7 separate regions of the Homo sapiens genome follow, and regions 1, 3, 4, 5, 6 and 7 are each linked to region 2. The links come from fine-mapping of genetic effects on gene expression. A gene starts in region 2. Each other region holds a variant in brackets. All regions are shown on one strand. Distances are from middle to middle.

Region 1 (4,332 bases), 29 kb after region 2:
GGAAATGGTGTAGCACTCAGAAATGGCCCTGGTGGATTCACTGGCTGAAAGCCCATCTGTTGCTTAAGCACAGAGTAGCGTTTTCTGCACCTTAGTGTCTGACTCCTTTTCAGCTTTATGAAGCATCATTGTTTCTTTAAAAGGCCCTGATTCACCTTCTGTGGTAGGAAGACCTCTACTCCTATTATGTGGATTTAACAGCTCAGAACGAATTCTTTTGTTTCTCTTCTCTGTCTGTTTTTGTGGCCCATCTCTGGATGTTCCAGTTTTAAAAACCATTTTTAACTTGTTTATGAAAAATTCAAAACATACAAAATTTTATATGTTAAATAAAAACATAATAAACAATTATGTACCTATCACCCTGCTTCACTGTTAGATTTTTTTGTATCTATTCCCCTCTCACTTTCCTGACTTCTTTCCCCTAATTCTTTGTGTGTGGTAGGGTGGGGACAGAGCCCCACTCTGTAGCCCAGGCTGGAGTGGAGGGGCACGAACATGGCTCACTGCAGCCAGGACCTCCTGAGCTCAAGAATCCTCCTGTCTGGGCCTCCCAAAGTGCTAGGATTACACATGTGAGCCATGGTGCCCAGCCTGAATTTTTTTGAAGCAGATCTCAAACATTATTTTATTATACCTGTAAATTTTTCATTATCTATCTCTAAAAGAGAAAAATCCTTTAAAAATAAAGGATTTAAAAAATCCTTTTCAATCCTCTTACCTTGGGAAATGTTAATAATTTAATATCATCAAATATTTGATCAGTGTTCATGTTTTCTAGGCTGTCTTAAATGTTTCCAGTTTTTAAAATTTGAATTGGGATCCAGATAAAGTCTATACTTTGTGATAGGTTGATATGTTTCTTATATCTCTTCCAATCTGTATGGCCTTCCTTCATTCCCTTTTCCCTCCCCGCATTTTCATTAAAATTTTTTTCAAGAAGCTGAGTCATTTGTTCCTTACTGTTTTCTACTGTCTGGATTTGGCTAATTACGTTATTGTAGTGAGGTTACACATGTTCATCTTTTTCTCTATTAGATTTAGAAGCTTGACCAGGTATTTTTGGCGAGACATTTGGTTAAGTGGTGTTATGGACTTCTGTCCAGAGCTACATAGTACCTGGTTAGCTCTTCTGTGGGCTGTGGCCATTGATGTCCATTGTTTAGATGCATTAACTGATGAGGGGATTTCAAAATGGTGATTTTTGTCATTGTTATTCTTTTTTTTTTTTTTTTTTAGCTAGACTATTTCTATATGAAAAAACTTTCTATCAACTATTTGATTTAACTGAGACACGATTTGTAAAGAAAGGTGAGAATAAGTGCTTCATCCATTCTCCCACCCCTTGTCTTTTTAAACCTGTTTTCCATTAGTTGGTTCCCTAACATCCTTCAGAAATGCACGAGTTCCTGCCTGCCTTTTCGTTTTTTCCTCCTACTGTTGTGAACTTTAGATTCAAATATTTGATATTCAGTCAGTTGCAGTTATCTTATTGGTGGTTAAATTGTCCAGTCTTTGGTGACTAGGAGTTCTCTGCTGAGTCCTTTTGACACAGCCCTTGTAGTCTCTGAAAACTTCCTTTAATATGACAAGATATTGCCATCTCATCTTATACATTTCCTGTCCCAGACTTGGAATCAGACATTTCTCCAAGGAGCCCTGGTACTTGGTACTTATTAGTGGGGATGGTATTGATCACTAATTATAAACCTTGTCAGTGATCTGAGCTAGGAAGTTGATATTTTTTAAAAGATAAACTTTTCATGAGTTAATATAGATACTTAATAGTTAACTTAAAGTTAGGTTTATAGGGTTTTTACTATATTAATCTTAAATCTCTCTCCTTTACCCTTACCAAAAATCGCAGTTCTCAGCAACAAAACATAATGATTGATGTGCCTTATCTCCCACTGTATACGTTAACAGTCTCAGAATGACAATACCAACACCACCATCAGCAATATGAATGTTGAAAACAGTTAAAAACACTTTTATTGTTCTTTTCTTTAGGGATATGCCAGCACTGTGTAGTCTTACAGTCTGATAACTGTATTTAAAGTCACTTGGAGTCATTCTCTCTGTGTGGTTATGCCATCAGCTAGATATGCAGTTAGTCCATATATTTCATTTTATTTTCAGTATTCAGGGTTTCCTTTTTAAAAATTTGTTTTATAATCATATAGCACAATAGCAAAGACTTGGAACCAACCCAAA[T/C]GTCCATCAATGATAGACTGGATTAAGAAAATGTGGCACATATATACCATGGAATACTATGCATTCATAAAAAAGGATGAGTTCATGTCCTTTGTAGGGACATGGATGAAGCTGGAAACAATTATTCTCAGCAAACTCTGACAAGGACAGAAAACCAAACACTGCATGTTCTCACTCATAGGTGGGAATTGAACAATGAGAACACATGGACACAGGGTGGGGAACATCATACACCTGGGCCTGTCGGGGGGTGGGAGGCTGGGGGAGGGATAGCATTAGGAGAAATACCTAATGTAAATGACGAGTTGATGGGTGCAGCAAACCAACATGGCACATGTATACTTATGTATCAAACCTGCATGTTGTGCACATGTACACTAGAACTTAAAGTATAATAAAAAAGTTAAAATTTGTTTTATAATCATATAAAGCATTTTTTATACCTCTAAAGGCAAATCTAAAAAACAAGGTATATTTAGTCTACTATCTTTCTCTTCCCTTTACCTTCCGTCCTTCTGCTTCCCTGCTTCCTGAGCAGTTTTTAACTTAAAACAACTTCCTTTTTTAAAAAAATAGAATATAAACAAAGACATATAGATATTTGTATGCCCTCCTTTCTAGATAAATGGTTGCATTCCATACACACTTTTCTCCATTGTGGTTTTCTTCACATAACAAAATATTTCAGAGATTGGTCCCTCATAGTATATAGAGATTGCCTCCTTCCATTTTATAGCTACATAATTGGGCATTGTGTGGATATATTTTACATAACCAGTTGTCCACTGCTGGACATTTAGGTTATTTCCCATCTTTAACATTACAGATAATGCTGCATTGAATAATCTTGTGCTTATATCTTTTCATGTTTTTGCTATTGTGTCTTTGGGATAGATGCCTAGAAATGGGACAAAGGATAAATACAAATATAGTAATGTTAGATATTGCCAGATTCCCTTTCCCAGGGGTTTTGCTTTCTATCTGTATTGGCAGAATCTTTTTCCTCCTGATTTCTTTTTAAATTATGCCTTTTATTGGAAAACACTATATATTCTTGAATTACCTGGGAAATAGATGTTCCTCAGGCTCTTTAACTTTCTACTCTAGTAGGACCAGCTTATATTTATGGTACCCGTGTCTTGAAGTTCACTGGAACAGTTTCCTCATTGATCCAGCCTCTTGGGTAATTGTATAATGTTATTTTGTGGATTCCTCCTAGAAATTCTGTAGAAATAGAGTCTAGAAGGCTTAATATTTTAAATTGCACATTCAAATCTGGAACATGTTGTTAGTGTGAGTGGGTTGCCTTTTTATGGAGTGGAAATACCATTGGATTTATGAGGGTAGCAAATATAATTGCTCTTTATTGAGTAGTTATTATGTACCAGGTCCTGCCTGTGCTAAATACTTTACATGTTTTGTTTAATCTTCATCATATTCCTGCATAGCAAGGTAGAAGCTGTTCTCCCCTGTTCTTAGAGAGGTTAGGTAAGAACTTAATCTTTAGTCACACAACCCATAAGTGGTGTAGAGTTGGGAGATACGCCAAGGTCTTTCTGAACTCGAAGCTTCAGTTATTATGGCCATTAATTGATTTACTGAATTATTTTGTTTCTGTTAGGAAACTTTTAAGTTTTAAATACTGCTTACTATTAGATGGTTTGTCATAGTCACTTGAAATTCTTAAATTGGAGGGCATACATCATTTTACAGGATTTGGCACTGATGATCAATGTATAGAATGTGCAATACACTGGAAAATGCTGAGGTGAATAAGATACAGCTTCTGTCTTCTAGGCGCTTAATATCTAATGGGAAAGGAAAGTTCAATGCACATTTAATTACTCCATTGAGGAGAGGGTGGTGGCTATTAATAGTATATTTGCTTGACTGGATCTTTAAAATACAGAGAAATGCAGAAATGCACCTTAAATATGTTCAGAGTAGTAAAATTCAGCTTTGAAAACTTATTTAGGTAATTTCAGATTCTTGCCAACCAATAACTATTATAATTGAATAAGAGGTATTTTGCTTTATCTTTCACTTTGAAACAGTGACTATATGAGTTTTAGGTCCCAGAAGGATATTTTTTTCTCTCTTGATAAATGGAAAGTGAAT
Region 2 (4,332 bases):
CTACTACCAAAAACTTGTATACTTTGCACACTGGCATATGGGTGAAGTCTAATTGCCAGTCTTCCCCTTTAACTTTAGCCAATATGTTCACACACAGAATCTCTTTTACAATTAATTTTTCATAAGCCTTCCACAACTTGTTCAAACCTTTTAGATTATTCCTATCTCACTTAAAACCATCCTTTCACCCTCTAAACTTAGGCAAGAAATCCACATTCCCATGCTTTTTACCAAAGGTACATTATCCTTTTCTTACATGAATTCTTTTCATAACTTACCCAGACCATCTACAAAATGCTTGGACTTTCTGAGTTTTCCTAAACATCTTTCTTTTTAAACAACCAGTCATTTTACGTTAGGACAAGAATTTATCGTACAAGATCTTTTCTCCTACAAAGCCACCATCTCTACAATCTTCCCTCACAAAAACATATCTTCATATATATAACTTTCTTCACATCTCTCCCCTACTTACTGGTTCCTTACTACCTTGTTTCATAAATAACTCTTTTTTTTAAAGTCCATAATTTGAATTAACTTTCAGATAACCTCCAAACTACACAAAATAATTCTTTCTCACCAATAACACATTTTTTGGCATATTTTGTATACAGAATTATATATTAACTATAATTCATATCCTTATGTATTAGTCTGTTTTCATGCTGCTGATAAAGACATACTTAAGACTGGGCAATTTACAAAAGAAAGAGGTTTATTGGACTTACATTTCCACATGCTGGGAAGGCCTCACAATCATGGTGGAAGGCAAGGAAGAGCAAATCACATCTTATGTGGATGGCAGCAGGCAAAAGGAGAGCTTGTGCAGGGCAACTCCCATTTTCAAAACCATCAGATCTCATGAGACCCATTCGCTATCATGAGAACAGCATAATTCAATCATCTCTCACCCACTGGATCCCTCCCCACAACACACGGTAATTATGGGAGTTATAAGAAGAGATTTGGGTGGGGATGCAAAGCCAAACCATATCATCTTAGTAACCTTAAATTTTAGTGAAACCTTAGGAAGCAAAAAATCCTAAACTATCAGATATTAGCATTTTATAGATGAGAATAATTCCACAATTTTTGGAAACATATTCCTCCCTATCATAACCCTTTCTTAATTGGAAATGACTGAGATATCCAATGGGCATCAAAAATACTTTTAAGATTTTAAATTACACAAAATTTACCTAATCATTCATCCCATTTACATGTACTTAAGTCTTTCATTTTTAACAGTTTATCTAGATTACTTCTGAAAACTGAGATATTAGACACCATCATTTAAAGTTAGTTATTTATTTGTTAACCATTTTTAATAGCCAATGAACATTATGTGTTCACCTAAATAAGAACCTCACAGTTAAATACATAGGTGTTTTTGCCAATAACCCAGAAGATTTAGCTAACAATATTAAATTAGTCTCATTTGTCAAAGAAGCCACATAAACTAAGGCCATTTTGTTTTGGCTGGGTTAATAGCTTTATAATCTTCTATGCCAAATGCTGACACTTCAACATTTCTAGCAAAGACAAATATAAAACCCAGACAAAAATGTATGCTGACAATTCTGAAGATATTTCTATTTTCATTTTACCAATAATTTTAAAGCCAGCTATTTAATGAAGATTTACTTAAGTCACATGAACTTGAAAATTGCTTGGACTTATTTATTTAATTTATGAGTGCTTTTTTATTTATAAGCTGATTTGGTTGACACAACATATAACAATAAGTGTACATACAAATAAACACATCTAGACATGTATACACACACACAAACGAAGATCCAATAGCTTTTACCTTGGAACTCTAGCCATGAGATATCAATACAAGCTCACAGGTTTTACATGGTTACACTTTGTTTGCTCCAATAGGTAATCCAGTGAAGGCTGTGAACCAAACATTTTTAAAGCAGTTCCGGTGGCAGTTTGATTTTTAAAGGCCAAACCTCCTCAGACTCCAAAGACACTGGAGCCAAATAGCACCAAAGGAGAGCACCATATGCTGACTAGGCCTGACCCTTCTTAGGACAGCAGCACCAAAGCCTGGATACATGCAACGTCATCCTGCTTTCCCATTCAACAGCAAACTCCAGATTCCAAACAATACTGGGGCCAAGTATTATTGCAAAAGAATATCAAATGTTTCCTCCTTAGATTATCAGGGTCAAATTCATTTCAATGGTTGAGGATGCAGCCAAGTGGGAAGTCAGGTGGAATAAATGGAGTGTTTCCTGTAGTGGTCTGCAAGAGAGAGACAATTCTAAGGAGGCCTTAGTACTAGACCTGAGAACCTTTGCCTAGGGCATCCCCTTTGGAGAGGCTGAGGTCTGGAGTTGGATCCCCTAGGCATCCCCCTTTGAGGTCCAGTCTAAAAGTGTCAGACATCTCTGACCTTAGGTGGGCACCAGTGTTGCTTTGTATGTTTTCCCTCCAGAGGCAATGGCCTAATATGAGCTTTTCTCTTGTCCCTGGATGAAGGTCTCAGCTTCTAGCTTCCTACCAATTTAGATAGGCCATATCTTCCTGCATTCCTTGCAAGACTAAGGAGGTTCCCGAACACTGCAGAGTTAACGGTACCAAGGCTAGTGGGATATTCCCCATGAAGAAATGGTGCAGAGGTTATATAAAAGATTGGGTTTATATTGGGTATATAAAAGATATATAGAATTTCTACGGGGTTCAGGGCAAGCAAACTGATGCCAAAGCAATGACCACCAAGCTCCCTTAAGTGGAGGTCCAAGATGTAGAATGTGTTCTAAAGCTTGTGGGTCCCAAAGGTCCTCAGCCAGTCAATAGATTCAGTAGGAGAAGGGAGGTCAAAATATCTAAGAGATATTATCTTTTGTCCTTACAGGCCAACTTTATGGGAGAATTTAGCTTAAGAAAGAGGGTTTAAGTCGCCTGAAATGTGTGTGAGTTCACCCTGGACGAGCTTCTGCTGCCAATTGCATCACAGGTAGGGATCAGGGACTATAACTCAAAAAGATACAAAAGAGTCCTTCCGCCTTCTGGGCAGGAGAGCTATCCCAGGTTCACTCCTTGGCCTTCAGGTAACAGTAGAGAGTGGTCCCGGCCAGTTTCCCTCAATTACCAAGAAGCTACTAGGAAACGGCCACTGAAAGACTGAAAAAAGGAAAAGGACTCAGGTCCCTCACCTGAATTGGGCAGTGGTGGTCAGGCACTTTCACACAGAAACCTTTCAGTTTCACCAGAGAGTGGCCCTGTTAGAAACCTGTGGTTGCCTCTGTGCTTAGGCACTGTCCACCGAGGGTTCCAAGCTGGAAAGGGAAAAAGAGACAGAGAAAAGAGTTCCCCTGTAAGGAGCAGAGAGGAAAAGGGAAATCAAGAGAAGAAAAATAAATCCCAAACTTTGGGCTTACCTCCTGGCTGGCTCGCCAATATATGTTACTGGTGGAGGGTCTTGACTATGAGTCATCCAGGTTCTTGGCATTTTGAACAAGGAACTGGACAAAATGCACAAACCAAGCAATGAAAGAATGAAGCAAAGAACGCACAGATTTATTTAAATGAAAGTACACTCCACAGACTGGGATTGGGCTCCAGCAAGGAGCTCAAGAGGCCGGTTACAGAATTTCCTGGAGTTTAAATACCCTCTAGAAGTTTTCCATTGGTTACTTGGTTATACCCTATGTAAGTGAAGGAGTGGCCCACGACAAGTCTGATTGGTTGTGGGAGGGGACCAATCAGAGGTACTTTCCATTTTTATCTGTGAGGCAGTGCAAAGACAGTAGCCTCTGATACTTTTGTTACTTGGGTGTGGAGAGGTGGGGTTTTCCTTGTGATTCAGTTCTAGGAAGTCAGGGCAAATTGGCCTTAGATTCCCTGCCTCCAGACCCTATTCTTCTACCTCACAAGCATGTCATGAATGGTCTGGAGTAAATCATAAGCGGATTTATGGAAAAAAAAGCTTTTAGATAATCAAGTTGTCTATAATTAAAGGGAAATTATTTTTAATGGTCTTTCTAGGAATTGGGTTTTGGTATTTTCTAAAAACCATTTATATACTGAAGAATCTTAGCACTTTGGGAGGCCAAGGCAGGTGGCTCACATGGTCACAGGTTCAAGACCAGCCTGGCCAAGATGGTGAAACCCCGTCTCTACTAAAAATACAAAAATTAGCCAGGCGTGGTGGCAGACGCCTGTAATCCCAGCTACTCGGGAGGCTGAGGCAGAGAGTTGCTTGAACCCAGGAGGCGGAGTTTGCAGTGAGCTGAGATTGTACCACTGCACTCCAGCTTGGGTGACAGAGTGAGACTCTGTCACACACAAAAAAAAAAAAAAAAAATTGGTTAGAAC
Region 3 (4,332 bases), 14 kb after region 2:
GAAAGAAACTCTGATTTTATAAAGCCAGGCCAAAACCTGGCAAAGATACAAGAAAAGAAAACAATACACTGATTGCCTGTATGTTCATTTTTCATGAACATACAGGCAAAAATCTTTATCAAGATGTTAGTAAATAAAATCCAGCAGAATATAAGAAAGACAAAACCAAGTTGAATTTGTTAGCATTACACTAAATGGAGAAACATTGAACACTTTTCCCTCTAATATCAGGAACAAGGCAAGATGTTCATTCACTGCTTCTATTCAATATTGTGCAAGATGACCTAGACTACGCAACCACACAAGTAAAAGAAAAAGGCATAAATATTGGAAAGAAAGAAGTAAAACTGATTCTATTTACAAAGTATATGCATATTAATACAGAAAATCCTAAGGAATCGGCCGGGCGCGGTGGCTCACGCCTGTAATCCCAGCACTTTGGGAGGCCGAGGCGGGTGGATCATGAGGTCAGGAGATCGAGACCATCCTGGCTAACAAGGTGAAACCCCGTCTCTACTAAAAATACAAAAAATTAGCCGGGCGCGGTGGCGGGCGCCTGTAGTCCCAGCTACTCGGGAGGCTGAGGCAGGAGAATGGCGTGAACCCGGGAAGCGGAGCTTGCAGTGAGCCGAGATTGCGCCACTGCAGTCCGCAGTCCGGCCTGGGCGACAGAGCGAGACTCCGTCTCAAAAAAAAAAGAAAATCCTAAGGAATCTACAACCCCCGCCCCTACAAAACAAATAATAGCACTAATAAGTGAAAGTCTCAATGTCACTATACAAAATCAATTATATTTCTCTACATTAACAGCAAATCAATGGAAAATAAAATAACATTCACAAGACTCAAAGAATAAAATACTTAGGAATATATTTATCAAAATGCATTCAGTGCTTTAAACTATGAATTCTCCCCAAATTAAACTACAGGTTCACAATTCCAGCAGGTATTTTTACAAAGTTGATAAGTCAATTCTAAAATTTATATAGAAATAGAAAGAACCTGGAATAGAAAAACAATTTTGAAAAAGAAGAAAGGGTAGACAATATACATTATTTGACTTCAGGAATTATCCTCAAGCAATAGTCATCAAGGAAGTGTGATACTAGCATAAAGATTGATAGATAAATGGATCATTAGAACAGAATAGAGACCCCAGATATAGGTCCACCTTATATGGTGAACTTATTTTTGACAAAGGCACTAGAGCTGATCAATGGCAGTAATTTTTTGTAAGCCCTACTTTTTTCCAACAAATGATGCTGTAGCAACTGGATATCTATATGGGAAGAATGAACTTTGACTCTTACCTAAAACTATACACAAAAGTTAATTCAAGATGCATCATAGACCTAAACATAAAACTACTAAAATTTTGGACAAAAATATGGGTGAATATCTGAGAGTAGGCAAAGATTTTTTAGAACCCAGAAAAAAAACAAATTGATAAATTAGACTTCATCAAAATTAAAAATTTCTGCTTATCAAAACCATCATTAACAAACAGGCAAGCCACAGACTGGAAGAAAATATTTATGAAACATGTACCTAGCAAAGGACTGTATCCAGCATATCTAAATCTCCTATAATTCAATATTAAAAAGCAAAGACAAAAAATGTGGATGTTTCACAAAAGAAGAGGTACAAATGACCACTAAGCACATGAAAACACAATCAACTCTATTAATCACCAGGAAAATGCATACAAGTCACAATGAGATACAACTATTAGAATAGCTAAAATCTGGAAGGCCGGCAACATCAAATGTTAACAAGGATGTGGAGCAACTAGAACTCTTATATATTGCTCTTAAGAACATAAAATAATACGACCACATTGGAAAAACTTGTGACAATCTAATAAAATTAAATATGCATCTATTGTTTGACTCAGTAATTCCGCACCTAGATATTTACCCAAGAGAAATGAAAACATATAG[C/T]TACAAAAAAAGATGTATGAGAATGTTCACAGCAGCATTATTCATAATGGTCTACAATATGAAACAACCCAAATGTCTATCAACTAGTGAATAAATTAATAAATTATAGTATATTCACACAATGGGATACTTCAGAGCAAAAAAGGGCAAGTTTCTGATATGTGAAACAATATGGATTAATCTCTCACACATTATGGTCAATTAAAGACATCAGACACAGAGTACATATTACATTATTTCATTTATACAACAGTCTAGATCTAAGAGGAAAATAAATGAGAATAGTGATCGCCTGGTTGTGGAGGGTGGGATGACCGGGATGACATGCAAGGGAACTTTGTGGAGTCAGGGGAAAATGTTCTTTATCTTGCTTGGTGTTGGGGTTACAAAAGGATATTGCTTTGTCGAAACCCATTGAACTATACATTTTTGTTCATTTTAATGTATGCAAAATTTATTTCCCTCAAAGAAATGAACTTTAATAAAGCAAGAAAAATATATGATCATACATACACAATACTAGGGCCTCTTGCAGGGCACTTAAAGAGCCCAACAGAGAAAGGGGCTAAACTCACTTGAAGCTTCATTAGCTATGTAGAAAATCTGCCTCTGCCCCCAGCTCACATTCTGGCCCAACACTCACTTAGTTGTGTGACCATGGACAAGCTGTTTGATATCTCAGTCCCTTGAATCCCACATGTGAAAATTCTGAATAACTATAGAACCTATCTCACTAAATTGGTGAATAAATTCCATGAGATAAATTAGAACTAACTGGTACATAGTGAGTGCTCAACAAACATAAACTATTATCATTATTGTGCAGACACAGTTTTCAAAAGAAAACTGTTTGGGAAATTCTTCCAAGGGCCATGAAGAGCCTACTGAAGTGTCCTGAGAAGAGAAGGGACACAGTCAGATTTGCCTTTCAGAAATAATGACTGGGCCGAGTGCAGTGGCTCACACCTGTAATCCCAGCACTTTGGAAGGCTGAGGCGGGCGGATCACGAGGTCAGGAGTTCGAGACCAGCATGACCAACATGGTGAAACCTCGTCTCTACTAAAAATAAAAAAATTAGCTGGGTGTGGTGGCGCACGCCTGTAATCCCAGCTACTCAGGAGGCTGAGGCAGGAGAATCGCCTGAACCCGGGAGGCGGAGGTTGCAGTGAGCCAAGATCACGCCACTGCACTCCAGCCTGGGTGAAAGAGCGAGACTCCGTCTGGAAAAAAAAAGAAAAAGAAAAAAGAAAGAAAGAATGACTGAAGCAGCAGTGGGGAGGATGAATTGGTCGGGGAGGAGGGAAGAACGGATTTGGAGTCCTTTCAGGACTGTCCTAACATGAAAATGGATGAGACATTATTGATCTAAGGAATTTTTTAGAAATAAAATAGTTTTATTCAAAGGATATAGAATTTCAACATTTTAATAAAAATCTAAATAAAAATAAAAGTAAAACTTAAAATGATTTTTCACATTTAAAGATATTAAAATAAATTCAAAATTGCCTAGTAAAATAAAAGCCAAATAAATTATAATTAATATCAAATCTTGAAATAAAAGTGTTTAAAAATATAATTGTTCAATATTGCAGAAGGTTCTTAAGCAACCCACCCTGCTCATGTTGAATTGTAAGTACTTCTCCAGAACTGCACACTGGAACGGGAAGAGAAATAACATGGACTTTCACACCATTAGGAAAGGAGACTTCATTATACTGAGCCCGTCTACTCCTGCACACTCCTGGGGTGGGATTGTGGGTCACAGGGAGACGTACGTGCATACTGCCGAAGAGCTCCCAAGTGGCTGGCTGCACCAGTTAACACTCCCCTGAGCAGTGTAGGGGAGTCTCAGAGGGTCACTTGGCATTTTCCATCATTTTCATTTTAGCCATTTTTGCAGGTGTGCGCAATGCTGTTTTTATAACCAACACATCATTTTTCTCTTCCTTTCCTGGAGGGGGAACCCAGCTTTTCTAGGCCCTCCACCCTTTGGGCAGGAGGAACTGGGTGTGTGGGGCGGGGGGAAGCCATCTCTGGGTGGTTGGTCAGCTGGGGCCTAACCACAGGAGGCAGATAGACTGAGGCTATGCCAAGCAGAAAGACTTATCAGGCACCTCTTGCCTTTCCTCATCTCTGCCGGTTCAAATCCTGCTCGCCCCGCAAGGGCAGATTGGAATTTACCTTCTCCAGAAAGCCTGGGGTGACTCTATCCCCTCACTCCTCCTCCCCCGTTCGCCAGCTTTTGTCTTGACATCGGCGGACCAAGAATGTGTGACTCTGGGCAAATCATTAACCTCTCTGGGCCTATTTCCTTATCTGGGGAACATCTGCACTTGAGCAACAGAAGTCTAAGATCCCTATCTGATTTGATGTTTTGCGACCCTTTTAAGG
Region 4 (4,332 bases), 110 kb after region 2:
TGTTTCCCTGTCACACAGGTAAGCAGGCACTTGCAACGAAGAGCATTAGGTTAATACGTGAGAGAAGTGCCTAACCTGGATTCAGGAAGACAGGGAAGGCTTATTGGGAGAGGTAGCATTTTGGGGCACCCAGAAAGATGAGTAGGGACAAAAGAAGGGACCATAGGGCCAGCTTAGGCACTCACTAGGGAAGATATGTGATTGTTGCAATAATGGCAATTCCATCCAAAAGATAGAAAAGCACCCAGGATCCCGTCTCCTAAAAAATCATCAGAGTGGGTGCTGGATGTGCACGGATAAAGTAGATGTGGGCATGTGCACCCGTGAAGGGACCATCTTCTGGTGGGAAAGATGGATAGGATGTACAGTTTTACGGCATGTACGATTTACTGAGGAGGGCAGGGGTAGCATCACAGAAGAGGTCATGCTAATGTGGGTTTTGAAGGGTGAGTAGGAGCTTGCCAAGCTGATCAGGCCAGGAAGGGCATTCTAGTTAGAGAGCACAGCATGTGCAAAGGCAGAGAGGCTGGAAAATGCATGGTGTATGACTGAACGAGAGCAATTCACTCTAAATTCTAACGCTTGGCCCCATTCCTCCCAAGACCACTCCTTTTCTTGCTCTATGGTCAGCGTGTGTGTGTGTGAGTACATGCACACACGTGTGTGACTTTTGTGCCCCTCCCAACCCTGAGATTCCTGATTCTGGGATTCCAGAAGACACTGCTCCATCAGTGTGCAGCCCCTTCTCTTCCTGCTGCCTGTCAGATGTACTCTTCCTGGCAGCTGGGTCAATGTTTGCCCCAGGATGTCCCCAGGGGCCAGAGCCCAAAAGCCCTCAAACATCACGTTCTCCACATTGGGCTCAGTCCATTTCCTGTGCTGGGACTGGAAGCTGCATGCTCAGCCCTCACCACGTCAGCCTGGAGCTTCTAATGAATGACCCCACCTGCTCAGACAGGAGAGTGCTGCCCCCTGCACCCCTCCCGGAAGCCTAGGGTGAGGCAGACACCACTTGGAGGCACTCACTGCACCTGTGTTCTGCCAAACTCCCACCCCACGAAGTGAGGTAGAGAGGGAAATGCAGGGGAGCAGGTGTGTGTGTTGTGTGTGTGTCTCGGCACTGTGGGGGCCTCCTGAGCTGTCAGCCAGGAGTTCTGGCCTCTTGGCCTGCAGGACAAACACTGGGGGCCATGGTCTTGCTGTCCACATATCAAGGGAGCTGCTGAGAGTTCCTCAGCTCCAGCTTCTCGGGCATCAGGAAGACCTTGCTGACCCCGTGAGCCACTGCCAGGGGTTGGGGGGCTGGGGAGGGGAGGGAACACTCCAGACACTGAGACCTTCCAGGAAGAATTCTCAGGCCATACTTTTGGCTGGGTCTGGGGACAGTGAGGGCTCTAGGTCTGACCCATCACCCTCTTTATGGCGCCCATCGCCCTTGTTTGAGAAGCAGCTAGTAATGCCCTCTGTGGGAGGGTTCCCAGTGAATCCCAGCCTCTGGAGGTCAGGGTACGGGCAACCCAGAGGCATGCAGTGTCCACGGTGCGCCCTTAGGCAGATGCAGCCATTCCATCTCAGATGTTAGTGCCTTCTCTCAAAGCCCCTGAGCTGTGACATTTGTAGCCCCATCACTGAGGTGATCTCCTGTTTGACTTTACCGGGGTTTCTGACAC[A/G]TGCTTTGAACCCATGATGGGGTCAGGGCATCCTCCCCCAGGACTCAGGCAATGTGGGATGGTCCTTGCCTTGGATTCTGTGGTCTCAGGCTGTGGCCATCTTCTGGCTGAGCAAGCACTTTGTGGGGAGTGGGCACAGGGTTACCATACTCTGCAACTGATGCTTGCTCTTTGGGTCTGGGCAAAATTTGGTACAGGCATATCAGAAGTAATTTTTGGAGTAATCCCAGATCCTGGCTTCATCTCCTATAACTTCTCTGCTGGCCCCAAAAGCTGACACAGCCAAAGATACTCATTCTCTTCAAGGGGCTTGTTTGGGTGGATTTGACTCAGTCCGAAGTCGTAATCTACCATGCAGGTGTCAATTTTGGGCAGAGCCCCTAGTGGTGGTGGTGATGGGTGGGCAGGGAGGAGGAGGAAAGAGAGGCTGCTGTCCTCAGAAAACACATGGTCCAGGAAAGTCAGGGACAGACATATCTTGGATAATCCCATTCCAAGGACTTGAGAAGAGCTGTCAGAGTGGGTAGAGTGCACACATCCCAGTGTGCAGAGTTCTGGGGATGCTGGGCTTAGCTGTGTGGCCTTGGCAAGCCACTTAAGTTCTCTGAGCCTTGATCTCCTCATCTTTAAAATGGGGATAATACAAATCCCACAGGATTTTGTGTGCATTCAACAAATTACTGTAGGTCAAGAGCCTGGCACGTAGAATGCGCACGCTGAATGGTGACTCTTGGCAAGGACTTTAGGAGGGGGCTAGTTAGAGAGCTCAGTGATGGGAGGTCGAGTCCCCTCATCGGGACTCCCAAGGCCCAGCTCAAGCTCTTCCTGCCCAGAAAAGCTTCCTGGAAACCCTGTGCCCCCCTTCCCCAGCTCTCCAGTCAGTGTGGGACTCCGTTTGCCCTCAGCAGCTTTCCCTCGGACAATGGGCCCCTGAAGGTGCAGCCTCCATCTCCCTCACTGAGCTCGCCCCTCAGCGGTGCTCAGTGAATGCTCATTGAGGAAACCGAAGGCCGTTCGGCGAACTGGACATTGGAGCGGAATCTAAAAGGATGGAAGGACTTGGGCCATAGGAACAGCAGTAAGAAGAGGAGAAAGTGACCCAGGTAGAAGCTGAGAAAGCAAACCCTCAGAGGCAGGCGAGCCCAGGGCCCACACAGGAAACTGCACCATCTGGTATGGAGGTGCCAAGAGAAGAAGAGGGGAGACAGGCAGGAAGGGGAGGCTTCTTTCACGTGAAGTCAGCACTTACTCTAGTGCTAGACCTGCCTCTAAATGCCCTACAGAAGACAGCGGATTGAATCCTCACGGCAGTCTCTGAGGTAGCTGCAAATAACCCCATTTCACAGATGAGGCTGCTGAGGCCCAGGGAAGCGAAGTCACCCACCAAAGGTCCCACTTCAGGTAAGGGGCAGAGGCAAGATTCAAGCCCAGTCAGTTGGTAGGTTATGGCTTGGTCAGGTTCCCATGGGAAGAGCTGATCCTGGGTGAGGAAGTGAAGACCTGTGGGTCACGGATGCTGAGAGGGCCCCAGCCCCAGACTGGGTGGCTGTGGGGCTCAGGAGGCCGCTCAGGTGAGAAGCCCCTCTCTTGCCACAGAGGAACAGGGGCCTTGGAGGCAGACACCTGGGTCACGGGAGGCAGACCCAGCCAGTGGGCAGGACCTTGCACAAGAGAGATGAGGAATTATAAATATTAGGTCTTAGCCCCCAGTTCCTGACACAGAATCCCTAAAACCTTTGGAATTTCCTGGGTGACAGGAGTGTCGTTAGTTCTAATGAGGTGACTCTTGGTGGGCTGCCAAATGCAGCTGGTTACCAGAGAGACCAAGCCATGGTTAGAAGGTTGGAGCTTTCAGCACCTTCCTACACCTTGGGGAAGGGAGACGGGCTGGAGATTGGGTTAATATGCCTCTGTAATGGAGCCTCCGTGAAACCCCTCAAAGGTGGGATTGGGGGCTTCTGGTTGGTGACCACCTGGTGGTGCGGGGAGGGTGGCATCCAGTGAGGGCACGGTGCTCTGCGCCCTCCCCACAGCTTGGCCTGTGTGCCTCTCCATCTGGCTGTTCAGCTATATCCTTTGTGATAGACTTTAAAATAAACCTGTAAATAGAAATGTTTCCTTGAGTTTTGCAAAATGTTATAGCACACTATTGAACCCAAAGAGAGGGTCATGGGAACTCTTGATTTATATAGCCTGTCGGTTGGGAGAATGAGAAGCCCTGTCTTGCGACTGGCATCTGAATTGGGGGCAGTCTTGTGGGACTGAGGCTTTACCTGTGGAGGCTGATGCCAACTCCAGGAAGATAGCATCAGAATTGAATTGAATTGGAGGACACCCAGTTGGGGTCCCCAGAGAAGTGGAGAATTGCTTGGGGCAGAAAATCCACACTTTTGGTGTCAGAGGTGTGTAAGAGTGTAGAGAAGAAATGGAATGTTTTCCTGTTTCCATTTTTCTTTCTTCTGAGGGGAACGTCTTGGACACCTGTGCTGATTAGCTCTTGGCTGTTCTAGGGCAGAGAGCTCTCCACCATGCACACCCCAGCCCATGAGACTGACTGTAGGCTGTGGGAGCACAGGGTCCACATCTGTGTCCCCAGTCCCCAGTTCAGAGCCTGGCACACAGCAGGTGCTCAATAAATGTTTGTCAACTGACTGACTGCTTG
Region 5 (4,332 bases), 34 kb after region 2:
CTACCATATTGGACAGCATAGGTATAGCCTGTTGATTTGAAAGATGTGGTTTTCATGGATAAAGAATATCTGGTTAGTTTACAGTATGATTCAGAATTGGAATCTTTATCTTCTGATTCCTTGTCCACTGTTTAACAGACTTAGCCAGTGTTCCATTTCATAGCTTTAGATATTTTTCTATGATAGGGTAAGAGAGTAAGTTTTTCCTACATGAGCTAGATAGATCGTGTTTCCCAGAGTAGGGACTGAAGAATAAGAAAAATTAATTGTGACAAAATGTGTTGCAGTTAATTATTCTAATGAGACATCAGGTTGATTTGGAATATTTCATGGAAAGAGGCCAGTGGCAAGCCTTTCATTTTGGCCATATGTACAGAGTCATAAAATGAGACATAACCTGTGACCCAGACATTCCATTTCTGGGAATTGATCTAAGGAAATAATTCAGAAGGAAAGGAAATTATACTTAGAAGAAGTATATAAATTGAAAGTAGAAATAACCTATTCAGTAATTTGAGAGTGGTTAAACAAATTATGGTAAAGTGGATTAGTTTGGGATAATATTCTGTCACTATTAAATGTGAGAAATTTGTGCCATTATTTAGAAAATGGGAAGTATAAAATAGGTAATACATGATTTTATACATACTAACTGTAAATATATGTATAAACTTTACTTACATTTGGATGAAATCTGGAAAGGGCCATAAAAATCAAAAGAGTTGGTCTGTTAAGTAAGAAGAGGGTACAATTTTAGGGTTTTTAGCCCTTGGTTTTAAAGTTATTTTAGTAAAATACTTATTCTGAAGTAGGCCATTGGGAGCGTTTCCTTAGTGGATGTTTTGCACAGAATATCTTCTAGGAAATTGAGAGGGCAGTGGTTATAGTAGTGTATTTGCTTGACTATATCTTTAAAATACAGAGAAATGCGGAAGCCTCTGGTTGAAAATATAAAATACTGCAGATAATAAAATGATTTGAAAAACATTGAAAATTACCTGGCTTGGTGAGGTGATAGTGATAAGTGAGTGCTGATGTTAAATGTGAGCCTATACTGATTTCTTTTTAGCCCCTCAGTTAAGTTTTAATATGTGGGTTAACAGGGCTAAACATAGGCATGGGTATTATTTTCCAAAGGACCTAAGATTGTCATCTGCCTCCATGTACATGATGACTTAGAAGACATCAGGGGTTTAAGGGGCACTATGGGAGAGGTGGTGTTTTTTGTTTGTTTGTTTTGAGATGGAGTTTCGCTCTTGTTGCCCAGGCTGGAGTGCAATGGCGTGATCTCGGCTCACTGCAACCTCTGCCTCCCAGGTTCAAGCGATTCTCTTGCCTCAGCCTCCTGAGTAGCTGGGATTACAGGCATGTGCCACCACGCCTGGCTAATTTTGTGTTTTTAGTAGAGACAGGGTTTCTCCATGTTGGTCAGGCTGATCTCGAACTCCCAACCTCAGGTGATCCGCCCACTTCAGCCTCCCAAAGTGCTGGGATTACAGGTGTGAGCGACTGCGCGCGGCCTGAGGTGGTGTTTTTAAATTTATTTTTATTTCTGCTTTTTGAGAAGTGGGGTTTTGACTCACTGGTGTAATTAAATGAAATGGCATTGCCAAAGTAGTACTGCCACACTAATTACTTAATACATTTTCTAATACGTGCTATGAAAATGTTTGCTACCGAGGAAAATATTTCTAAAACTTCATTTTAGGGCCTGTTCAACTTTGTTGTGAAAATGGTATATTTAGGACTTTTAGGATTTGTATCTAGAATTTCAGGATTGTTGGAAAACATAATTTCTTTCTTTGTAACAGACTGACTTACTTAAATTTATAGGTACTTGAGACCAGAAACTGCACAGGGGATTTTCTTGAATTTCAAACGACTTTTGGAGTTCAACCAAGGAAAGTTGCCTTTTGCTGCTGCCCAGATTGGAAATTCTTTTAGAAATGAGATCTCCCCTCGATCTGGACTGATCAGAGTCAGGTACTGCTCAGGTTACTCTTACAAATTAGTGAATGACCTTGGCATTGCATTGAAAATGAAAGCTTGCTGTTTTGAA[G/A]CAATTCTGCTTCATAATCCTGATTATGAATTTATTTTTGTTTTCTCCAAAAATCATGTTTTACATTTGGAATCTCTAAATGTAATCTCCAGGATGACAGGCAGTTTTGAGTGACAAAAGTGAACTTGAAGGGAAAGGAAGGAGGGTGGAGACTGTCTTAAGAGTCTCACCTGCTCCAAAATTACCTTTTTCCTTGTTCATCGTATATTTTGAGGATGGTAATATCTTGATTGTCTAAACCAAGGCAATACTGGCAATGGTGATGTGTATAAAAGGGTGGGGTCGGGTGGGGGTAGGGTGAAAGTTGTGGCAGGAGGATTGTTCTAGATATCTAGGGCAGACAACATTGCTGAAGTTGGGGTGAGGATGTATCAGTAACCAACTGGAGTTCTGGAAACAACCTCCGTCCAGGTATTTGGGGGGCCTATATGACAGAAAGGCCAGCAAGCAAGCTTACCCTCATCACTCACTTGGCCTCTATTCAAATAGCCTACTTTTGTCTGATCTATCCAGGGATGTGTGGGAAGGCATATTGGGGCTGGTGAGTTCTATATTTCTTTAGAAATTTATTATGACTCAGCTGTTTATGACTTAAGTTTTTTGTGATTTCTATACGTTATTCCTGGTATCATCTCTTAGAGTAATACATTCCATATAAAATACGAGGTGTAGCTAAACATAACTTTCTAAGGCCCCAAAGTGTTTTCCCAGCCCCAGCGCCCACCCATTTCCTGTCTTCTCTTCTTACTCACTGTAATTACAGACTTGGGTCATAACATAGCCCAGTCACTGACTCTGGATCAAAGCATCCACAGCACCTGCCTCATCTTGTTAGTTCCCATGATGCCATCTGGGAGAAGATGCCTATGTTCTGCGCAAACTGTATCTCTAGGCCCTACAGGTTTACGGTTTAGGAAGGAGGGACTTACAGAGGAAAGAATGTGCCCAACTTAGAGAAAGTTGGGGGAATGACCCCTCTGAGCTTTCATGTAAAAAGAGGAGGTCATCAGAAACTTTAGCCAGGTATGATGGCAATGACAAATTTGTCAGATTTGAGTCTTTGTTTTATTTCCCAGTGTCTGAGTGTTTTTGTTTTTTTGTTTTTCACCGTTTCAATATCTAGCAAGTATGCCTTCCCAAACTGAGGAAGCTGCGTAAGGCTGACCTTGTCTGAAGCCAGTGTTACGAAGAGGGTTTACACAGAGTAGCTATGGGAAGATTATTGAGAAGGACTGAGAAGTAAGGCAGTGTCTGGGGCCTGTGCAGTAAAAAAGTGGTGAGTAGGGAAACCAGCTTGGAACTTGGGAGTGATCCCAGGGGTTAACTGGTAGAAAGGCTCTGGGGCTTCTCAACAGTGGATTCTTTGGTCATTTTCACTTCAAAGTGTCATGTCTGAATTCTGGCTAGTTTTGTTATGTCCCTTGCAAGTTCCTGACCAGAAGTCCACTAGTTTTTTCATGAGTCAGCATCCTCCTGGCTTTTGTTCCATGGTAGGACTAGGATTGGTTTATTTAGTGTTCTGATTCTTCTTGATGGCAGAGTTCTCTGGTGATTAATCTTTGCATAGCTGTATTTCCTTTTGTCCTTTTGTTAGTTTAGAGGTATTAGATTGTTCATATGAAGATTTTTCTAAAATTTTATTTTATTTTGATTGACTTATCTGTCTTCCTAGCCTGTGTGTATTTTAGTTCTCTACAGTTTCAGGTACAGTTGCTGAACTGAGATACAGTTACTCAGAATTCTGATGATTCCTGCCTCCTATCTATGAGCTGAGATTATTGATGAGTAAATTTTGTATGATTTGTATGATTTCAAGTCACACAGTGTGGTGCTTTGATATGCTTATACATTGTGAAATGATTACCACAGTCAAGCTAATTAACATAATTATCACCTCACATAGTTACTTTTTTTTTTTTTAGTGGTGAGATCTACTTAACATCTACTCTTTGAGCGGATTTCAGGTATACAGTGAATCATTAACTATAGACACAGTGCTGAGATTTGTGACAGAACAGATGGAAAGACTTTGGCAGCAGCATTTTGGAGATTCTAGGCAGGGCCCGTAATTTATCCTGTCCCACATTGTAGATGTTCAGTTGCTGTCAGCCCAATTATAAGCTATGTGAGGACAAACACCATGTTTGTTTCTCTCACATTTATATGGGCACAGAAGATGTTTCCTAGTTGTTGAAAGACAACTAAAACATAGGTGCAGCAGGACCAAATAAGAGACACTATTAAAAAATAAAATTTAAAAATTAAACCTCTTG
Region 6 (4,332 bases), 60 kb before region 2:
GGAGAATTAGGCCAGATCAAATCAACATTGCTGTATGGAAAAATACAGTCTCATCCTGAGAGGCCTGCAACTGCAGAATGTCATGGTGCCTCCCTCTTTGCCCTTTGAGATGTCAGTGAATAAAGAACCAGAATTTTCCCAGTCTGTTTTAGGAGAAGGCCACAAGTGTTCTAGGACAATAACCTGCTAGATCCCACAGCCAACCTTAATAGTCACTTTTGAAAAGTCCTGGAAATACAACAATTCAGCGATCTCTATGTCATTTACCATAGCTATACTGGAATGAGATGTACCGATCCCAAGATTCACTACTGTTAAAACCTGACAGACTGCATCAGAGTTAATACATTCATTCCCTTAGCTTATGTAGTCATGGTATTTATAACACTTTAAATGCAGTTGAAATTCAAATGTAAAAGGAAAATTTTGCTTCATGTGTCTGTTGCCAACAAGAGCACTAGTACCATTTTAAATGAGAATACAGCTTTACTTAAATGAAAATCCCAATGTTTCTTTTGGGTGTAGACCTCATTCTTTCCTTCATAGAAAGAACTGTAAACTCAGTAAATTCTTAATCTCTTGTATAATAATCGGATGAGAGCCAAGCATTTTCTTAAAGATCCTCTAAAAAGAATGGCTTTGGAATGACTAGAAAACATTTGTGGAGTGTGGGAGCTATGCTTGCATTATTTGCTTAATTCATGTGCTTGGATGTTGTGCTTTCAGTCTATTCAACAATATTTAATCAATTATTAAATTTTCTTAGAGACATACACTTAAATGAAGCATTTTAATTGAGTATTTTTTAAAAACTCCGGGCTGTGTGTAGTGGCTCAGGCCTATAATCCTGGCACTTTAGGAGGCCGAGGCAGAAGGATTACTTGAGGAGTTTGACACCAGCCTGGGCAAATGGCAAGACCCCACCTATACAAAATTAAAAATTAGCCAAGCATGGTGATGCATGCCTGTAGTCCCACCCAGCTACTCAGGGGCCTAAGGTATGAAAGGTGTGAGGATTGTTTGAGCCCAGGAGTTTGAGGCTGTAGTGAGCTATGATTGCACCACTCCACCTTAGCCTGGGCGACAGAGCAAGACCCTGCCTCTAAAAAAGAAAAGAAAAGAAAACAAACAAACACAAAAAAACCTCTGAGTGTTTAAAAATCTTTCCAGAATAGCTGATCTGCTGATGTCAGCCTTTTAAAAAATATTATTACTGTCCAGGCACAGTGGCTCATGCCCGTAATCCCAGCACTTTGAGAGACCGAGGCAGGTGGATCACTTGAGGATGGGAGTTCGAGACCAGCCTAACCAACATAGCAAAACCCCCCCTCTACTAAAACTTAAAAATAAAATAAAATAATTTCTTTCTTCACATGAATACAACCCTTCCCAATAACAGAGCTGCTGAAAGCCATCTTTATTATGGTCTTTGTTAAACTTTGTTGACTAAAAAGACAACAGGAACTCTGTATACCTGAATAACAGAAACTCAAATGACTCACTGAAAATGAACAGTTACTCATGGCAGAAATAGGTATATGTAGAGGAGAAACTTGCTTCAGTAAGTTACTGGAATCTTCCAGAGGGTAATGCATTTTATATGCATCTTTAAAAAACGTATTAAAAATGGGGCCGGGTGTGGTGGCTCACACATGTAATCCCAGCACTTTGGGAGGCCGAGGCAGGTGGATCACGAGGTCAGGAGATCGAGACCATCCTGGCTAACACAGTGAAACCCTGTCTCTACTAAAAATATCAAAAATTAGCCGGGCATGGTGGGGGGCGCCTGTAGTCCCAGCTACTAGGGAGGCTGAGGCAGGAGAATGGCGGGAATCCGGGAGGCAGAGCTTGCAGCGAGCCGAGATTGCGCCACTGCACTCCAGCCTGGGTGACAGAACGAGACTCCATCTCTGAAAAAACAAAACAAAACAACAACAACAACAAAAGGTATTAAAAATGATGTCTCAAGCTAGCTAAGTCATACGAACTATTCAATTTGCCTTAGGAAGCCACAAAATTGTAGTGGCAAGATGAATTCTCTAACCCAGCAATTCCACACCTAGGTGTATCCCCAAACAAATTGGAAACAAAATACTGGGACAAGAGTCTTCATAGCAGCACTATTCACAATGGTCCAAAGGTGAAAACAAATGACCGTCAATGGGTGAATGGACAAACAAATGTGGTCTATCCATACAATGGAACGTCATGCAGCCATAAAGAGAATCGAAGCACAGGTGTATGCCACAATGTAGATGAAACTAAAAAGCATGCTGCTATTAGAAAGAAACCAGACATGAAAGGTCACATACTGGTTGATTAAATTTATATGAAATATGCAGAATAGGTAGACCCATAGGAATAGAAAGCTGATTGGTAGTTACTAGGGGCTAGGGGAAAGAGGGAATAGGAAATTAACTACTCATCAGGTACAGAGTTTTATTTTGGGGAGATGGAATGCTTTAATACTAGATAGAAGTGGTGGATGCACAACAATGTGAATGGACTACATGCCACTGAATTGTTCACATTAAAATCGTTAATTTTATGTTATGTGAATTTCACCTTTAAAAAAAAATGAGAAACCTAGCCAGGCGCAGTGGCTCACTCCGGTAACCCCAGCACTTTGGGAGGCTCAGGCAAATGGATTGCTTGAGCTCAGGACTTCAAGACCAGCCTG[T/G]GCAACATGGCAAAACCCAGTCTCTACAAAAAATACAAAACAATGAACCAGGCATGGTAATGCATGCCTGTAGTTCCAGCTACTTGGGAGGCTGAGACAGGAGGATCACCAGAGCCCAGGTGATCGAGGCTGTGGTGAGCAGTGATCGCACCACTGCACTCCAGCCTGGGTGATAGAGTGACACCCTGTCTCAAAACAAAAACAAAAACAAAGCAAAACAAAAAATCCCACACCAAAACAATTTGGGGTGTTCAAGAATAACAATTATACTCAAATAGCAACATTTCCCAAAATATGATCTGTGGGCCACTGGGGCCACTAGGTGATTCTCAAACAAGGCTTCTGTGGTCCAGTGACCTGGAAAACACTGCATTCCATATTTCCACTTAGAGATTCACAATGCACATCGCCTTATGAAGGCAGCTGAGAATGCCTGTAGCAAGGGAACCTGTGGAGCTCTGTTTAATCCTGAGTTTCCAAAACCTCCTGGGTCACAGAACCCCTTTGATGTAGACAGCGTTTTACTGAGAGTGTGGGAAATGCTGCTCTGTGATGATACAGTGACTTTGATTTGTTTAGGATGATCGTTCAGTTCTTGAAGAATCATATTCAATAAAATCCTAAATTATCCAGAAAATTGAAGATAAGCAATAGTGTGTTATCCAGAAAGGGAAGCATTCCAAATCTTTACCTTGTTCTGGTTTGACACTGACTGGGTTTGTGGGTGATAACCTTTCATTACAGGATTGATTTATACAAATATTGCATGGCTTTGCTGGTTAAACACCTGATAATCAGTTTGAAACTGCAGGGCTATAAAAATATCCATCAACCTCTATTAAATGCAGTGAGGGTTGCAGCCTGGCAAAAAATAAGGATCAGACTGTAAGGCTGAGAGCAAATGTGATAGAGCCCCAAATTATTGATTAAACTAGAAGAAAATTGGGTGCCTTGGCTTTCTATTTCCCATCATTCTTACTTTGTTCCTTTTTGTCTCTTTTACGATTGTCAAAGCAGTTTACGGGTTTAATAGAACAGGTTAGACAACTTCACGGAAAAGTACATAATGGGCATCAATAATAGTGGCAGGCCTTGTTAGACCAGTAGTATCTTGACACAAAATGCTTGCTCTAACTCATTAAAACATTTTAGTAAGTGTCAGTATTAATACATGTTTCTTGCTGCAAATAAAATTTATTTCCAAATTCCAATTTAGAGAAATCTGGTGGCCTAGAAAATACTATTCCCTGATGTAATGTGATTTTCCATGCTGTCATTCAATTGGGAATTTTCTCAATATTTCAAATCACTAGTGAATTGATAATAACAAATTATATTGCTGCATTTGGCCATTACAAGTCCTTTTGCCATTTTCGTTTAGTGGGTATGGTAGCTGATGGTCCTCTGAACTGCTCTAAAGAGGCAAATAACAGTAAACACTGGTCTGCTATGGAACAGGGGGTGTTTTCTGGGTTCTCAGCCAGGTGTCAAAGAGGAAGGTTTAGAGGTAATCTGAAGACCATTTTTTAGGAAGAATATCTTCCACCTGGCCTAGAAAATACAAGAAATTAAAAGGTTCTTTCAGGAAGAAACTTAAAATACTTTTTTTCTTGAATTAATGTCATCTACTTTGTAAAAAATAATCTCTTTTG
Region 7 (4,332 bases), 460 kb before region 2:
CACATTCTAATTTGTTTCTGTTCAAAATATTACTTTTTTTTTTTTTTTTTGAGACAGAGTCTCACCAATGCCCAGGCTGGAATGCAGGGGCACAATCTCAGCTCACTGCAACCTCTGCCTCCCAGGTTCAAGTGATTATCCTGCCTCACCCTCCCCAGTAGCTGAGATTACAGGTGCACACCACCATGACTGGCTAATTTTTGTATTTTTAATAGAGACAGGGTTTTGCCATGTTGGCCAGGCTGGTCTTGAACTCCTGACCTCATGTTATCTGCCCACCTCAGTCCCCCAAAGTGCTGGGATTACAGGAGTGAGACACACCTGCCCTACTTTTCTTTTTTTTGTTACAATAGTAGCTAAAACTTACTCTGTGCCAAGCATATGTGTACTCTTCTAATCACTTTACATATATTAACACACTTAATCCTTACAATAACCCATTGATATAGATACCATTAGTATACCTACTTTACAGATGAGGGACTTGAGGCACAGAAATATTAAGTGACACACCCAAGGTCACCCAGGTGGTGGTAGGTGATAGTGACGAGATTTGAACCCAGCACTTTAGCTTCAGTTTCTGCGCTCTTAGCTACCGTGCAACAGTGCCTCTCATGAGGTTTGTTCCGTTCTTGGTGTTTTAATTACATCTTTTAGGGCTTTAATAATTTTAAGCATGTTTATTTTACATTCCCTTTCCAATTGTCATTCTATTATATGAAGTTTTAGGGTATCTTTTAGTGCTATTTATTGTGTCTGCTGACTTTTAAGTCAGCAGGATTTTGTCCTCCTGCATTTCATTATTTGTGTTTGTGAGCTTATCTTTAAAGAAGGCTGTTTTTCTGTGAGAATCCCCGTGGCCTGGGTTGTAAATGTGTCCCTCAAGAGCAGTTTTGCATTTGCCACAGAAAGATCACCAGATGTGGAACTCTTTTTTGGCTGTTTATCATTTTGGGAGTCATTTATCATCATGGTTCCTGGACCATCTGCAAATTTGAACCTCCAAATTTGAGGTAGAAAAAGACCCTGAGAATTCATTTCTCAGAGGACATTTTTCCCCATCCAGACAGAGGCATATAAATTCTTTTTTGTCTCTCCGTGCCAGTGCATCGATGGTTCTCCTAATCTACTCTTTTCAGTGTGGGTGTAGCCTTTTAAAAACTGCTGCAGTTTTTTAACTAAGCCCAGCTGTGGCAGCATCCCACATCCTTACCACTCACTTCTCTCTTTGTTACTGACACACCTGGAGACTTCCTTTCTCTGTTGCCAGTTCATTCATGCATTTAAAATAATTTTTGCTGTATTTTGTCAAGCATTTTAAGGCAGTATGGCAGGAGAGTTTTCAGACTGTTTCCCCACATCTTCTTTTAAGAAAGTTAGGAGTCTCATTCCACCCTTTAAAAAAAGTATGATGTTAATTATTTTCTCTTGGTAAGCCTGATTTAAAAATTGGGGACATCCATAGAAGTGTTAGGAGGAAAATGCAAACTACTCATTGTACCACTACCTAAAAATGGCCATGTTTTAAATGTTTTCTCCTTTTTGTATTATATGTGTTTAGATATACATATATACATGTATATATGTATGCATATGTATACACACATGTATACGTGTATGTAGACATATGTATACATATGTACACATACACGTATACATGTAGA[CAT/C]ATGTACACATGCACGTATACATGTAGACATATGTATACATGCACGTATACATGTAGACATGTATACATACATTTATACATGCACACATACATGTACACATACATGCACACATGTACACATACATGTATACGTGTATACATACGCACATACATGCATACACGTATACATGTATACATACGCGCATGCATGCATACACGTATACATGTATACATACGTGCACATACATGTATACACGTATGCATGCATACATACGTGCACATACATGTATACACGCATGCATGTATACATGCGTGCACATACATGTATACACGTATGCATACATACGTGCACATACATGTAGGCACGCATACATGCGTATACATGCATGTATACATGCATGCGTGCGTGTACATACATGTATACATGCACACATACGCATACATGCATGCATACATGTGCATGCATGCATGTATGCATACGCATACATACGCATACATACGCATACATACGTATACATACATGTGCGCATACGCATACATACGTATGCATACGTATACATGTATACATACGCATACATACGTATACATACGCATACATACACGTATACATGTGTATACATATGTATACATACGCATACATACACGTATACATGTGTATACATATGTATACATACGCATACATACACGTATACATGTATACATATGTATATACGTATACATGTATGCGTATACATGTACACGTATACATGCATACATGTATGTATGTATACATGTATGTATTCATACATGTATACATATATACATACACATATGTGTGTATGTATATATGTACTATATAACTTGATTCATGTGTGAATATCTGTTTACATGTGCGATTTTTCACCTAATAGTGTATTGTATTTTTCTTACATCATTAAAATTCATTAAAGAACAAACAACTGAAGAAAAACTTCTGCCTTAGAAGCTTAAGGATAAATGAGGGGCATCTTCTTGCATATATTTGATTAGCTGTTCTGCAAATCTACTCTTCTGCACCTAGCAACCTAGAAATAAAAAAGGGAATAGCTGCACTAAGAGCCCTAGAATCCTAATTAACATTGTGCCGCTGATAGATGCCTTACATTTAAAGCAAGATCATGTTGTTTCTCTCCCATATAAATGATTTTCATTGACTGTTCTGAATAACTTTATATTTCCGGTCTCCAATTTGCTGCAACTAAATCTTAGCTACTCCCCCATTCTGGCTTTCTTGTTGAAAATTGCTCTCTGAGCAAAACCTGGAATGTCTGAAGTCGTTCCCCAACACAGTTGCTAGAGATGGGCTGTGAAATAACAGAATTTAGCAGCAAGTCTCTCCACAGGCCAGTGTATAAAAAGGATCTGAAACCTAGGCTGGGAATGACAAGTATGCTAGAGGGAATGGCACTCCCCTGCCCGCCTTCCAAAAGCAGTTTGGCTTCAGGAGAGTGGGTGTGTGTTTCACTTGGTCTTGCAAATGTAGGTCTAACTTTGTCACCGCCTTTCCGTCTGCCTTCCAGCATCTGTGCCCAGTTGACGTAATGACTGTGGAAGGCAGATTGAACGTTATTAAGGAGACAGCCTGGAAATTGTGAGAGGCAGGCAGGGTCAAGGATAGAAAGCATTTTTGGGAGACTGGGGTTCTCAGCTCACAGTAATTGAGAAATCGATTCAAACTCATGCCATACAATGAAATTATATGTGTGTGTGCATTTCCTAGAAGTTACCCCATGGCCCTTCCCACTTAAGTTAGCACTATACAATGTCTTGGCCAAATGAATTTGAGTTCCAAGTTAGGTTCTTGAGACTTAAATTAGTTCCAAGTTAGTTTCTTAAAATTTGTAGTAGAAATAATAGCCTTAAAATGTAATTTATTAAAAATTAAATTTAGGGCCAGGCACGATGGTTCCTGCCTGTAAGCCTAGCACTTGGGGAGGCTGAGGTGGGAGGATTGCTTTAGCTCAGGAATTTGAGACCAGCCTGGGCAACATAGTGAGACCTTATCTCCACTAAAATAAAAAAATTAGCCAGGCATGTTGGCACACACCTGTAGTCCCAGATACTCAGGAGGCTGAGGCGAGAGGGTCACTTGAGCCCAGGAGTTCAAGGCTGCAGTGAGCCATGATCATGCCACTGTACTCCATCCAGCCTGTGTGACAGAGCAAGACCCCCCTCCAGAAAAAAATTAAAATCTTTAAAAAACAACAGTTTTGATTTACAACTGCCAGAATTTATGAGAAAAATAATTTTAAGTTTCAAAAGTTTAGTGTGCACACTAAAAAAATGAAGGCACAAAGCTTATGTTGCCAACAAGATATTAGAAACAGAAGTATAACTACACAACTCTACTTCCTGTAGATTAAAGATTGCCAAGACTTTATTCATATTTTTATTTTTTAAAAAATTTAAAAACTGAGACGTGGATTCATTTCTAACAGGGACACACAAATGTCTGATGGTGGCCCAGGAGGGCTGTCACTCAGAATCAGGCGGGTGCAGAGTGGCCTGCAGGACATGATGACCCAGCATGAGACAGGATGCATCACATCTGGGTGACGCCTCTCTCCAGGGGATCAGCCTGGACTAAATGCCTCTCCTGGGCCAGGATGCCCAGCAAGCCCCGAGATGCCTCCTGGAGAGAAGGAAGTATGTGAGAGTATCCTGAGTTA

Evidence for each region.
Region 1: its variant is fine-mapped to the expression of GARS1-DT in nasal epithelium (TOPMed, PIP 0.96).
Region 3: its variant is fine-mapped to the expression of GARS1-DT in whole blood (TOPMed, PIP above 0.99).
Region 4: its variant is fine-mapped to the expression of GARS1-DT in whole blood (TOPMed, PIP above 0.99).
Region 5: its variant is fine-mapped to the expression of GARS1-DT in whole blood (TOPMed, PIP above 0.99).
Region 6: its variant is fine-mapped to the expression of GARS1-DT in whole blood (TOPMed, PIP above 0.99).
Region 7: its variant is fine-mapped to the expression of GARS1-DT in left ventricle (GTEx, PIP 0.95).

What each region holds. Positions count from the first base shown.
Region 1 is chr7:30,605,087-30,609,418 of GRCh38, forward strand. All of the region lies in intron 6 of GARS1 (glycyl-tRNA synthetase 1), which reads left to right. Among named protein-coding and RNA genes, the nearest start is that of GARS1, 12 kb to the left of the region's middle. The variant T/C (reference allele first, on the strand shown) is at 2,215.
Region 2 is chr7:30,575,836-30,580,167 of GRCh38, forward strand. It overlaps GARS1-DT (GARS1 divergent transcript), which reads right to left and starts at 1,944. Exons shown (of 7, transcript NR_038889.1): 1 at 1,814-1,944; 2 at 729-875.
Region 3 is chr7:30,590,177-30,594,508 of GRCh38, forward strand. No RefSeq gene overlaps it. Among named protein-coding and RNA genes, the nearest start is that of GARS1, 2.5 kb to the right of the region's middle. RefSeq lists an enhancer at 4,157-4,332. The variant C/T (reference allele first, on the strand shown) is at 1,941.
Region 4 is chr7:30,689,791-30,694,122 of GRCh38, forward strand. It overlaps a transcript of CRHR2 not described here. Among named protein-coding and RNA genes, the nearest start is that of CRHR2, 9.5 kb to the left of the region's middle. The variant A/G (reference allele first, on the strand shown) is at 1,671.
Region 5 is chr7:30,610,263-30,614,594 of GRCh38, forward strand. GARS1 (glycyl-tRNA synthetase 1) reads left to right here. Exons shown (of 17, transcript NM_002047.4): 8 at 1,834-1,983. Among named protein-coding and RNA genes, the nearest start is that of GARS1, 18 kb to the left of the region's middle. The variant G/A (reference allele first, on the strand shown) is at 2,060.
Region 6 is chr7:30,515,589-30,519,920 of GRCh38, forward strand. No RefSeq gene overlaps it. Among named protein-coding and RNA genes, the nearest start is that of GGCT, 13 kb to the left of the region's middle. The variant T/G (reference allele first, on the strand shown) is at 2,681.
Region 7 is chr7:30,113,869-30,118,200 of GRCh38, forward strand. It overlaps a transcript of PLEKHA8 not described here. Among named protein-coding and RNA genes, the nearest start is that of MTURN, 19 kb to the right of the region's middle. The variant CAT/C (reference allele first, on the strand shown) is at 1,665.